Homo sapiens: one gene and its partners. The protein of the gene in region 4 interacts with the protein of the main gene of each other region in a biochemical or structural test. Each region holds a gene or a part of one and is shown on either strand. Other genes may lie near its edges.

Evidence for each region. Proteins that work in one complex are often made in the same cells at the same time.
Region 1: of the proteins of CASP3 (region 4) and GRIPAP1, one has a biochemical effect on the other in vitro, tested with the Homo sapiens proteins (one study listed by BioGRID).
Region 2: of the proteins of CASP3 (region 4) and BMX, one has a biochemical effect on the other in vitro, tested with the Homo sapiens proteins (one study listed by BioGRID).
Region 3: of the proteins of CASP3 (region 4) and RET, one has a biochemical effect on the other in vitro, tested with the Homo sapiens proteins (one study listed by IntAct).

The regions. Positions count from the first base shown.
Region 1 is NC_000023.11:48,985,265-48,988,764, reverse strand, and holds part of GRIPAP1 (GRIP1-associated protein 1), read left to right. Parts: intron 1-566; coding exon 567-644; intron 645-887; coding exon 888-980; intron 981-3,362; coding exon 3,363-3,497; intron 3,498-3,500. UniProt on the Homo sapiens protein: Regulates the endosomal recycling back to the neuronal plasma membrane, possibly by connecting early and late recycling endosomal domains and promoting segregation of recycling endosomes from early endosomal membranes.
Region 2 is NC_000023.11:15,517,807-15,521,306, forward strand, and holds part of BMX (cytoplasmic tyrosine-protein kinase BMX), read left to right. Parts: intron 1-122; coding exon 123-187; intron 188-390; exon of another isoform or gene 391-1,121; coding exon of another isoform or gene 1,122-1,173; intron 1,174-3,500. UniProt on the Homo sapiens protein: Non-receptor tyrosine kinase that plays central but diverse modulatory roles in various signaling processes involved in the regulation of actin reorganization, cell migration, cell proliferation and survival, cell adhesion, and apoptosis.
Region 3 is NC_000010.11:43,111,569-43,115,068, forward strand, and holds part of RET (proto-oncogene tyrosine-protein kinase receptor Ret isoform a precursor), read left to right. Parts: intron 1-530; coding exon 531-656; intron 657-1,284; coding exon 1,285-1,395; intron 1,396-1,987; coding exon 1,988-2,107; intron 2,108-2,911; coding exon 2,912-3,168; intron 3,169-3,500. UniProt on the Homo sapiens protein: Receptor tyrosine-protein kinase involved in numerous cellular mechanisms including cell proliferation, neuronal navigation, cell migration, and cell differentiation in response to glia cell line-derived growth family factors (GDNF, NRTN, ARTN, PSPN and GDF15).
Region 4 is NC_000004.12:184,629,822-184,632,447, reverse strand, and holds part of CASP3 (caspase-3 isoform a preproprotein), read left to right. Parts: intron 1-51; coding exon 52-180; intron 181-507; coding exon 508-683; intron 684-1,290; coding exon 1,291-1,411; intron 1,412-2,626. UniProt on the Homo sapiens protein: Thiol protease that acts as a major effector caspase involved in the execution phase of apoptosis. Following cleavage and activation by initiator caspases (CASP8, CASP9 and/or CASP10), mediates execution of apoptosis by catalyzing cleavage of many proteins.

The sequences.
Region 1 (3,500 bases), on a different chromosome or scaffold from region 4:
CAGAGTGACAGGTGAAGGGGTCAGTCTGAGAGTTCACCAGGACCTGGAAACTAGGAGGTTGTGAGTTTGAGACCTCTAGGATCTGGGACTATGAGTTTGGGTGGATCTCACCTGGGAAGTAGGGACGTGGGAGATGAGTGTGTCTGAAACCCCTGGTGGTTGGGATTGGGAGGCTGGGTGAAACTGTCATCCTTGGGTGCTGACTACATCTGAGATCCATGGGGCTGACTGTGTCTGAGAATCCTGGAGCTCCCAAGCTAGAATCTGGGTGAGCATGAGACTTCTTATGGATGGGAGCTGAGTGAGTTTGAACCGCGTAGCAGCTAGGGCCAGGAGTCTAGTCGTGCCTGAGATCTTGTACGCTGGGATAGAGGGGTTGACTGTGTCTGAGGCCCCTGAGGGTAGTGACCTGGCGTCTGGGTGAACCTGAGATTGCTGTTGGCTGGATAGTCTGAGACCCACAGGTGCTGAGAACATGCTGCTGGGTGGTCAAACAGAGAGTCTGTACGGTTATATGCACCCCAGGAGAGGCTGAGGTGTAAAATGGGCTCCCCTGGTCTCCACAGAGCTTGGCAGAGCTGAGAGATCAGCGGCAGGGGGAGCGCCTGGAACATGCAGCAGCTTTGCGGGCCCTACAAGATCAGGTATATTGTACTGCGTGGGCTCAGGGAGCTGGGGTTCAGGATGGGGGCAGCCTGAGTGGGTACTACATAGTCAGGCAAGGTCCCAGGGATCCTGCTTCCCCCAGGCCTTCGTGTGTGTGTGTGTGTGTGTGTGTGTGTGTGTGTGTGTGTGTGTGTGTGTGTGTGTCCTTTCTTTCTTGGTCGTGGGTAGGTCCTGTCCCCCTGTTCTGGACCCACTCTCACCTGCTGTGGACGTGGGGCCAGGTATCCATCCAGAGTGCAGATGCACAGGAACAAGTGGAAGGGCTTTTGGCTGAGAACAATGCCTTGAGGACTAGCCTGGCTGCCCTGGAGCAGGTAAAGAACACCTGGGGGCCCTTGCTGATCCCTCTCCAGTTCCCCCATCTCCATCTGCTTCTGGTCCACATCAGGGTAGGGTGGTCTGGACCCCATGCTGTTCTCCTGTCTTTGTTTCTGTTGCTCCTTTCTGTTGGCGTCCAGCCCTCTTCTCTCTGGCCATCCATCCCTACTTTTTTTTTTTTTTAACTTTTAAAAATTTTATTGGGGAGGCTGAGGCAGGAGAATTGCTTGAACCAGGACCCAGGAGGCAGAGGTTTCAGTGAGCCGAGATCGCACCACTGTACTCCAGCCTGGGCGACAGAGCAATACTCTGTCTCAAAAAAAAAAAAAAAAAAAAAAGGGCGTGGTGGCTCATGCCTGTAATCCTAGCACTTTGGGAGGCCAAAGATGTGTGGATGGCCTGAGCTCAGTTCAAGACCAGCCTGGGCAACACGGTGAAACCCCATCTCTACTAAAATACAAAAAATTAGCTGGGTGTGGCGGTGTGTGCCTGTAATCCCAGCTACTCGGGAGGCTGAGACAGGAGAATCTCTTGAACCCAGGAGGCGGAGGTTGCAGTAAGCCGAGATCGTGCCATTGCACTCCAGCCTGGGCAACAGAGCGAGACTCCGTCTAAAAAAAAAAAAAAAAAAAAAGCCGGGCATGGTGGCTCAATTCTGTAATCCTAGCACTTTGGGAGGCCGAGGAGGGCGGATCACCTGAGGTCAGGAGTTCGAGACCAGCCTGACCAACATAGAGAAACCCCGTCTCTACTAAAAATACAAAATTAGCTGGGTGTGGTGGTGGGCACCTGTAATCCAAGCTACTCGGGAGGCTGAGGTGGGAGAATTGCTTGAGCCCAGGAGGTGGAGTGTGCGGTGAGCCGAGATCGTGCCATTGCACTCAAGCCTGGGCAACAAGAGTGAAACTCTGTCTCAAAAAAACAAAAAACAAAACGAAAAAAAACTTATTGGCCGGGCATGATGGCTCACACCTGTAATCCCAGCACTTTGGGAGGCAGAGGTGGGCGGATCACCTGACATCAGGAGTTTGAGACCAGCCTAGCCAACATGGCAAAACCTTGTCTCTACTAAAAATACAAAAATTAGGCCAGGCGCAGTGGCTCACGCCTATAATCCCAGCACTTTGGAAGGCTGAGACGGGCGGATCACCTGGGGTTCGGAGTTCGAGACCAGCCTGGCCAATATGGTGAAACCCCGTCTCTACTAAAAATACAAAAAAAAATAGCTGGGCATGGTGGCGCACACCTGTAATCCCAGCTACTCGGGAGGCTGAGGCAGGAGAATTGCTTGAACCTGGGAGGTGGAGGTTATAGTGAGCCGAGATTGTGCCACTGCACCCCAGCCTGGGTGACAGAGTGAGACTCCATCTCAAAAAAGAGAAAACAAAATTATTTTGTAGAGACAGGGTCTCACTATGTTACCCAGACTGGCTTAAACTTCTGGCCTCAAGCTATCTTCCCACCTCGGCCTTCCAAAGTGCTGGGATTATAGGTGTGAGCCACTGTGCTTGGCCTATCTCTGCTTTTTTTTTTTTTTGTAGACGGAGTTTCGGTCTTGTTGTCCAGGCTGGAGTGCTATGGCACGATCTCGGCTCACTGCAACCTCCGCCTCCCAGGTTCAAGCGATTCTCCTGCCTCAGCCCTCCCAAATAGCTGGGACTACAGCCGTGTGCCACCATGCCCAGCTAATTTTTGTATTTTTAGTAGAGACGGGGTTTCACCATCTTGGCCAGGCTGGTCTCGAACTCCTGACCTCATGATCCACCCGCCTCGGCCTCCCAGAGTGCTGGGATTACAGGCATGAGCCACCGCGCCCGGCTTCTGCTTTTCTTTGTTTCTAGTTTCTCTCTAGTAAAGTGCATGAAATGTACTAATCTTAAGTGTACACTCAGTGAATCCTCTCTTCGTCTCTCTCTTTTTTTTCTCTCTCTCTCCCCGCCACCATAGCCACCACCCAGATCAAAGTATAAAGCACTTTTAGTACCCCAGAAGGTCCCCTTTACCCCTTCAAAGTCAGTACTCCCCCAGAAGTAACCATTATTCTGATCTCTAGCAACATAAGATTCATTTCGCTTGTTCTTTAACTTCATATAAATGGAATCAGCTGCTCTTTGTCTCTGACTTCTTTCTGGCAGCACTATGTAAGTTTATCCACGTGGCAGCACAGATCTGTTCTCTTACTGTTGTGTGGTATTCCATTGTATGAACATACCACATTTACCCATTCTCTTCATTGTTTTTCTGTTTGAAATTTCCTCTCTCTTCCTGGTTCTCTTCCCACCTCCCTCCCTGTTTCCCTGGAACTAGGGGGCTCATACCCTGTCCCTGGCCCCTGGGGTCCCTTTCACTCTACTTCTCATCACCACTACTTTCTCCAGATCCAAACAGCAAAGACCCAAGAACTGAATATGCTCCGGGAACAGACCACTGGGCTGGCAGCTGAGTTGCAGCAGCAGCAGGCTGAGTACGAGGACCTTATGGGACAGAAAGATGACCTCAACTCCCAGCTCCAGGTA
Region 2 (3,500 bases), on a different chromosome or scaffold from region 4:
GGATTCACTTAATCTGGAGTATTGCTCACACAAGCTGGTTCATTCTTTTAATTCATAACATTGAGTGTTTCTCTTTGTTTTGTTTAAAGTTCCTTCTGATATTACTTTGTTTTAATGTTCAGATGCTAATCTGCATACTGCAGTCAATGAAGAGAAACACAGAGTTCCCACCTTCCCAGACAGAGTGGTAAGTCAACATTTTAAAAATGTTTTTCATGGTCAGGATATATTAAATAAACCAAGAGTTGCCAGATTCAAGACTAGAAAATGTGGAATTCATTTAGACTTCTCAGCAAAGAGAGAAAAACCATGAGCTCTAGATAATAGCTATGGGTGGTATTGAATAGCGGATTCAAATATAGAACCATTGTAATATCTCATATTTTTGCATTTCATTGTTGTGTCTTTTCCTAGCCAGTAAGCCCATAAATAGTCACCAAAAAAAAAAAAAGAAAAAATGGGTGCATGCGGGAGATGTCCTTAAGATGGCATCACACATAACAGGCAGCTGTTATTAGCTGTCATTCTTTCCTTACCATCAACATGGCCAAGACTGCTTTGTGGAAGTATCCTGGTGTTGAAATGAAACTCTATAGGACAAAAGCAGAAAACAACATAATTCTTTCCCTCCATTATCCCTTCAAAGCTATTCAGTGGGCTTTCTTCCCTGCTTCCAAATAAAGTCTTTGCCAAATTCCATAGTTTTGCAGTCATTCTCAAATGATAAAAATGTCCCCATTACTTGTAATCATAAGAACAGCCTCTGAATTGTTCCATCCAATGTTATTATCACATGACTGCAAACATCATTCCAAGTTAAACATCTGTCACCTAGCTTGGGCCTGCATCACCTGGCAGCATGCTTTTGGGGAGGGATTTTGGGGGGGCTGAGATTCATGGCCCTTTCAGAGTTAGTTCCAAGGAAGATGAGGTCTAATTAAAAAAAGACACACATAGCTGTTTCTATCATGATTTGGTGGTGGTGGTATCGGAGTGAGTTTTCCAGCACTGATTCTTTATCTCATGGGAGACTTTTAGGAATTTCCTACTGAAGGGCAGATCCATATGTAGTTTTATGACAGGGGAGAGATCTTGATCCTCAGTTCTTGGATTTTCAGCCCTCAATCTTTCAAGATGGCTGTCAGCCAACTTTTTCCCAAGAGTGGAGTTGGCCTATAAGAAAACAAACAAAACCTTGATTGCTCTGGTTAATTAAGCTGTATGTAGCTCTCTCTCGAAGTACAGGCTACTGCTGTCTTTTTGCTCTACTCTCTTGGGTTCATAGCCACAGCCTTCTGTTTTTAGGGTTCCCAGGCAGGTGTGAGCCTCCTCAAATGCCAGGATACACAAAAAATGGCTTCCCATTGGTTCTCTGGAAGTTCACCTGAAAGCAAGGGGACATCTCCGCCCATCTATTGGATCTATGGTGTCTTGGGTACTTATTTTCAGCTACACACATTCGCACACACTTCTCTCTTTCTAAGTAAAAGCCACATAATTTTCATGAATCAACATGAAAGACAAAAATAATCCATTATTGTAGTAGACTGAATAATGTCCCCCAAATTTCATATCCATGTAGAACCTCAGAATGTGACCTTATTGGAACTAGGATCTTTGCAGATGTAATTAGTTAAAGATCAAGATGAAATCACACGAAAGATGAGAGTGGGCCATAAATCCAATGACTAGTAAGATGAGAGGACACAGAGAGATACACAGAGGAGAAGGCCATGTGAAGACCTAGGAAGAGATTGGAGTTATGTTACCACAGGCCAAGGAACACCTGTTTCTTAGTCCATTTGTGCTCTACTAAGGAATACCTGAGGCTGGGTAATTGATAAAGAAAAGAGGTTTATTTAGCTCACCGTTCTGCAGGCTGTACAAGTAGCATAGCACTGGCATCGGCATCTGATGAGGGCCTTAGGCTGCTTCCACTCATGGCAGAAGGGAAGGGGAGCTAGTGTGTGCAGAAATTGTATGGTGAGAGAGAAGAAACAAGAGAGAGGGAAGGGAGATAGCAGGCTCTTTTCAACAACCAGCTCTCATGGGAAATCATAGAGTGAGAACTCATTCACTACCATGAGAATGGCACTAGGCCATTAATGAGGGATTCGCCCCTATGACCCAAATACCTCCCATTAAGCTCTACCTCCAACACTGGAGATCACACATCAACATAAAATTTGGAGGGGTCGAATATCCAAACCATAGCAACTTGGAACCACCAGAAGCTGGAAGAGGCAAGGAAAGATTTTATCCTAGAGGCTTCAGAATAAGTATGGCAATGCTGAAATGTTGATTTTGACTTCTAGCCTCTAGAACTGTGAAACAATAAATTTTTGTGGTTCTAATCCACCAAACTTGTAGCAATTTGTCATGGTAGCCCTAGGAAACAATTATAATCGTTAGGAGTTTTACTTTGTTATTAGCAACATTGCTGTTTGGGTTTGAAAATATGTTTCAGTCCTGAAGCTTGAAAAGTATGGCCCTCTAAAACACCTAGGAGAAACGCCCAGATTAGGCAAATCTATAGAAACAAAGGGTGATCAGTGGTTGCCTGGGACCAGAGTAGGGATGAGAATTGACTGCAAATAGGTATGAAGGATCTTATTGGAGTGATGGGAAGACTGGGCTGTGGTGATAGTTATACAAGTTGATAAATTTACAAAAGTCACTGAATTCTGCACTTTAAAAAGGATGAACTACCAATAAAGTTTGTTTTGACAAGTCTAAGAGCAGAAGATAATTAAGAGCCAGAAACCATTGCATCTAGTCTCCAGCAGGGAACTTTTTGGCCAATATATTGAAAATTATCAGCTAGGCAAATCAGTGGCTAAGGGTTCATAAGCCTGTTTTGATTATAAGCTTCCCAAATGAACCAGGGATCAGAGGGTATCATGTAAAGTATGTTTTTCTTTGTTTTGTTTTTTATCAGAGTATTCAGTAGAGGGCTTATTTTCTGAATGGAGGAAATAAAAATCAGCTCTCTAGTTGTTCTGTTCAAAGAGATTTCCTTAAATGATTTCCATTTAAGGAACTTCCTAGTGCATTTTTCTTTGGACATAACCCACTTCACAGCTCATAAATAACACTGTCCTGCATAATTAAAATTTCCAGAATGTCAAAGCCTTAACTCCAAGTAAATGAAATTTCTGAAAAACTAAAATATAGCATGAAAAAAATATTAAATGCATCTCTTTCTGTCACACACGCACACACAGACACACACACACATATTGTGAATTTTTAACTGAAATATAACATTAACATAGAAAAGCACACAAATCCTAAGTGTTCAGCTTGATGAATTTTCACAAACTGAACAATTCTGTATAATCCACCCTCAGATAAAGAAACACAACATCACAGAACCCCAGGGACACCCTGATGTTCCCTTTCAGTCACTACTACCCTCCAAAAGTAGTTGCTAACCTGATTTATAACATCATAGATTGTTTGCCTGATTTTGACTTTTATATGACTGGAATTATAAAGTG
Region 3 (3,500 bases), on a different chromosome or scaffold from region 4:
GGAGTGGGGAAGGCATGGACCAGCTTCACCCTGAGTGACCCAGCAGTAAATGGTTGCTCCTTCCAGATAACATACAGGACCTTGGGTAAATTTGAATTTTGGGTAAACAACAAGCAGTTTTTTGGTATAGGTGTGTTCCATGCAACTTTTGCAGCTTCTCGAAAGACACACCTCTAGGTCCATCCATGCCCTCTTAGGAACATGCTGACACAGCTGCCATTCATGCCATTCATTGTGTATCTGAAATGTAGGTCCCACAGGGCGTCGTTGGCTGAATCTGGCTGCACTCACATCCTTCCTCCTGTACTTACCCCAGCCCAGGTGACCCCTGCTTTGTGACCATGATGTCCTGTACCCTGCCCTGCGCCCTGTGCTCCTGGCACTGTCTTTGCTGCCCTGGGTCTGTCACTCCGGTCCCCTTGGGCTCCATCCGTGGGCAGCTCAGCTGGTGCTGTTCCCTGTCCTTGGGCACTAGCTGGACGCTGGGCCCAGGCCAGCCCCCTGTGACCCTGCTTGTCTGCCACCTGCAGATGTGGCCGAGGAGGCGGGCTGCCCCCTGTCCTGTGCAGTCAGCAAGAGACGGCTGGAGTGTGAGGAGTGTGGCGGCCTGGGCTCCCCAACAGGCAGGTGTGAGTGGAGGCAAGGAGATGGCAAAGGTAAGCCCTGGAAACGCCCAAGGGAGGCCTGCAGGGGCGATGGCACCGGTGGAAACGGGGTCCTGGGGCCCTGCCAGCCTGGGGTGGCTCTCCCTGCTCCAGGTCTGCTTCTGGCACCTCATCCCCCATGTGGCTCTCGATGCCAGCATAGCGGGCAGCAGTGCAGGGCTTGGGAGAGGGCTTGTGAGTACAGTGAATGGTCCCCAGGCCGGATTCACTCTGGACTTGGGAAGGTCTGAACCAAAGTTGGGATGTGCTGGGGACAGAATGGCGTTTTTCTGGGAGGTCCTCGGCCAGGGGATGTGGTGTGGGCAGGGGACTCATTGTCTGCATCAGCCAGAGGCCAGCCTGGGTGTGCCCACCACCATGAGGGGCCCTCACCATGCAGCCCTGAGAGGGTCCCGGCCTCTTTGCTGTAAGGGCCACCTGTGTGAGGAACCCCCCATACCTCCTCTCCCATAAGCCATGGCTCCCCAGGATGCTTCCGCTGGCAAGGCTCTGTATATGGTGTTTCCCTACTCAGGCCTCCAGTTGCTCCTCCCTAGAGGGGCAGGATCTGCCTAGGAGGTGGTGGGGGCGTGTGGCGGGGCTCCCACATGGGTGACAGCCTGCTGTGTGTCCTGTGCAGGGATCACCAGGAACTTCTCCACCTGCTCTCCCAGCACCAAGACCTGCCCCGACGGCCACTGCGATGTTGTGGAGACCCAAGACATCAACATTTGCCCTCAGGACTGCCTCCGTAAGCAGGGTTTAATCAGGGCATGGGAACAGGTAGGAGATAGTAGGGGAAACCTGGATCCCACAGGCACTTCAGCCAGAGTTGCCAGGGCTGTCAGTTCTATGCATCAAGCTGAGCCTCCTGTGCATTTCAGCATCACCCTAGCCATGGGGAGGGAGCAGGCAGGGTCAGGGACAGGGGGAAGGCAGGGACCCACAGACTGTCCAGGCCCCTGCTGAGGTCCCAGAAGTCGGCACACACAGATTTCAGAAGCAGAGAATGGTCAGTAGGGACACTGACAGGGAAAGTGCGGCCCTGAGCCAGACGAGGGACACTGCAATGTGCGGGTCAGGCCACCAGGCTCCAGTTTTGGAGGCAGAGTCCTTTGTTCAGATGAAATGTTAGGAGGGGGCCTGGCTTCACCCATGGCTTCAGAAAGGCACTGTGACCAAGCCCTGCCCGGCTAAGCCAAGCTGCTGGGCCCCTGGCCTCACTGGGCCTATGCTTGCGACACCAGTTGGGGAGGGGGCTCCTTGGGACACTGCCCTGGAAATATGGGCGCCTGGGGTGGTCAGGCGCCCCAGGAGGCTGAGTGGGCTACGTCTGCCCTCAGGGGGCAGCATTGTTGGGGGACACGAGCCTGGGGAGCCCCGGGGGATTAAAGCTGGCTATGGCACCTGCAACTGCTTCCCTGAGGAGGAGAAGTGCTTCTGCGAGCCCGAAGACATCCAGGGTGAGTGGGTGGCGGCCGGGACCACCACCACCTCCCAGCCCCACAGAGGTCTCAACAGCACATCTGAGGTCCCAACAAGGGAGGAAATTGCTGGGAGGCGAGTGGGCCCCATGAAACTTCCCTCCCTCCCTCTGGGCCTCTGTTACTCCACCCAGGAGAGGGGCCAGGGCCCCTGTAAAGTGTCTTCTGGCCATAAGTTCTATGATGGACAGGCCAGAAAAGCAGTTCTTCCACCAAACAACTTGTCAGCCTGACAAGTCACTGTCCCTGTGACCATGCAGCTGGGACCCACCCAGGAACACATTTCAAGGTCAGCAGGTATGGTGGGTTGCACAGCCACACTGACTACACTCAGGGGTGCTGTTCTGCCTGAGCATAGGGACACGTTTCTGTCATTGAGTTTTCTGGTATTATATAGCCCTACGTCCCTAGCCACTTAGCATTTTCATAAAGAAAATGCCAAAGACATTTGGAACAGAGGAAAATTTTGACCTCCCCTGCCAGCCCTCCAGTGCCAGCTGGTGTAATGAGCACAGCCTCTGCTGTGTGACCTTGGCAGGCTGCTCAGCCTCTCTGAGCCTCTGTCTCCATCTGTAAGAGGGCAATAGTGGTCTAGGAGGGGGCAGTAAATGGCAGTACCCATGCTCGATGGGGTGTTCTCAGGCCTTCCCACACCTCCATGGCCACTTCCCAGCTGGCGCGGACACGGCAGGCTGGAGAGCCATGAGGCAGAGCATACGCAGCCTGTACCCAGTGGTGCCGAGCCTCTGGCGGTGCCAAGCCTCACACCACCCCCACCCACAGATCCACTGTGCGACGAGCTGTGCCGCACGGTGATCGCAGCCGCTGTCCTCTTCTCCTTCATCGTCTCGGTGCTGCTGTCTGCCTTCTGCATCCACTGCTACCACAAGTTTGCCCACAAGCCACCCATCTCCTCAGCTGAGATGACCTTCCGGAGGCCCGCCCAGGCCTTCCCGGTCAGCTACTCCTCTTCCGGTGCCCGCCGGCCCTCGCTGGACTCCATGGAGAACCAGGTCTCCGTGGATGCCTTCAAGATCCTGGTGAGGGTCCCTGCGGGGCAGGGAAGATCCCCTGCCCTCCCCAGCTGCCTTCCAGGGAGGGAGGCCAGCTGGGGAGACAGAGGCCATCCTGTGAGGGGCTGCCAACGCTGGGCAGACGAGGCCTGTGTTCTGCCCCCATTTCCATAGGGCGCTGTGTGGGGACAGTCTGTGGGGTGGGACTGTGATGAGGTGCCGTTCCCATCTAGGTGAGAGGCAGTGGTCAGGGTCACAGCATCGGGCAGGGGAGCAGCAGTGTGGATGGAGGGGCACTGAAGTCAGAAGGGGGTGCCTTTCTGGGGAGCCTGGCCTGCAGGTCTGCATGTGCTACTCAG
Region 4 (2,626 bases):
TAGTTATTCTTTGTTTTCCATACAATTAAAAGTAATTCTTTCTGTTCCAAGGAATGACATCTCGGTCTGGTACAGATGTCGATGCAGCAAACCTCAGGGAAACATTCAGAAACTTGAAATATGAAGTCAGGAATAAAAATGATCTTACACGTGAAGAAATTGTGGAATTGATGCGTGATGGTAAGAAGAAACAATTAGAATGAACTTCATTGTACAATTAATTTTATACTATGGTCTAGCAATAATTATATGTATAATAAAATATGAGAATTGTGGAATTATACTGTACATAACCCTAATCTTACATACTTTAGTAAGAAGTTTAAAAAAAGTTATTTATGCCAACTTCCTAAAATGGTTTGAGATGTGTTGCCGTGCCCCAGGTTAGGTTAAGATGACCTCTTAGTTTTAGTCTCAGTTTCTTCATCATGTTCCCATACAGTATATCTGAAGTTGTTGAATAAAGTCATGGATTTTTTTTCCTTTTATTTGCAAATGTCTTTACAGTTTCTAAAGAAGATCACAGCAAAAGGAGCAGTTTTGTTTGTGTGCTTCTGAGCCATGGTGAAGAAGGAATAATTTTTGGAACAAATGGACCTGTTGACCTGAAAAAAATAACAAACTTTTTCAGAGGGGATCGTTGTAGAAGTCTAACTGGAAAACCCAAACTTTTCATTATTCAGGTAATGTCTAACTGAGTGATTTGGTTATTGACGATTAAGCAGGGGTTACTATTCTCAACTGTAAATTATCCAAAGGATAATTTTTTTCCTGAAGCTAATGAACTATTGTTACTTTTCATTTATTTACCACTTAAAAGATATAGAGTAAATTTTAATTTTATACTTATATCAAAAAGACTCAGCATAATTAACATCCTTTTTTTTTTTTTTTTTTTTTTTTTTAGACAGAGTCTTGCTCTGTCGCCCAGGCTGGAGTACAGTGGCGCGATCTCCGCTCACTGCAAGCTCTGCCTCCTGGGTTCACGCCATTCTCCTGCCTCAGCCTCCTGAGTAGCTGGGACTACAGGCGCCTGCCACCAGGCCCAGCTAATTTTTAAATTTTTTTTTAATAGAGACAGGGTTTCACCATGTTAGCCAGGATGGTCTCGATCTCCTGACCTCAAGTCATCCGCCCGCCTTGGCCTCCCAAATTGCTGGGATTAAAGGCGTGAGCCACCGCGCCCGGCCAATTAACATCCATTTTTACATAGCATTTCAATTTTTTAGAACTAAGTTATGTGTTCACACACAAATTTTTATAAATAAATATTTATTTTCTAACACCCAGGCCTGCCGTGGTACAGAACTGGACTGTGGCATTGAGACAGACAGTGGTGTTGATGATGACATGGCGTGTCATAAAATACCAGTGGAGGCCGACTTCTTGTATGCATACTCCACAGCACCTGGTGAGAACGTTACACATAATGAATGTTACATGTGGATTTTAAATGAATTAACTGTGACTGATCATAGAATTATACAATGAAAAGTGTGTTTCAGAGACTGTCAAGATTTTGATATCCCTAAAGATATCAAAACTTGTCTATATTTTAGGGAACCTTCATCAAAGAGAAGTCTCAAAAAGTTGTCTTTAGCCAAAAGTTTGGCTAGAAAATATGCATATATAGCCAGGCACAGTGACTCACGCCTGTAATCCTAGCGCTTTGGGAGGCCGAGGCAGGTGGATCACTTGAGGTCAGGAGTTCAAAACCAGCCTGGCCAACCTCATCTCTACTAAAAATACAGAAAAATTAGCTGGGCATGGTGGCACACGCCTGTAATCCCAGCTACTGGGGAGGCTGAGGCAGGAGAATCGCTTGAACCTGGGAAGCAAAGGTTGCAGTGAGCCAAGATCGCACCACTGCACTTCAGCCTGGGCGACAGAGTGAGACTCCGTCTCAAAGGAAAAAAAGAAAAGAAAATATGCATATGTAGAGTAGACTAGCACGATGTCATTCATTGGACTTTATCAGGTAGATCTCCGCTACTAATATCAGGTAGAATATTACGTGGCAACAGAGGCCAAGTCAGAGCTTCCCCTGCATCTTAGAGAAGAAGAGAGGTACGTTTCTCAGGAGTTATTTGAAAGGTAGTAAATAAAAAAGATAAACATGACTAGTATACAAGAGGATAGATGTGGAGTGGGAGAAAAGAAGGTAAAAAACGATACATGAATGTGCCGTTAACCTCCACGTTTTTACTGTTCTGCTGCACACGTCATCATCTAAATAAACATTTGTGGATTATACCACCATTTACTCACACAGCTAAGGGTGTCGGAGAGTTTGGAAACTTTAGGTAAATGTATTCTTAAGCAGTGTTGCATTTTAAAATATGCTCAATATGGTTTATCTTATCCTCTAGGCATCTTTCCAAGCAAAGTACCTCTAAGTTAAAAGCAATGGGTCTAATAGTTAACCTAGAAAAAAAAGTATGATAAATATACTATTTTCCCTTTTTGGACCAATACTTGGTAGTGTGTTTATTATACTTTATTCAGATGCTCTGTAGACAAGTAGGACACTCAAAGCAATTTGTTTCTTGGCTAAGTCAGTATTAAAATAAGGTGAAATCTGATTGGAACACTGTGCTACTTACAATGATCCTTTTTATACATCTTT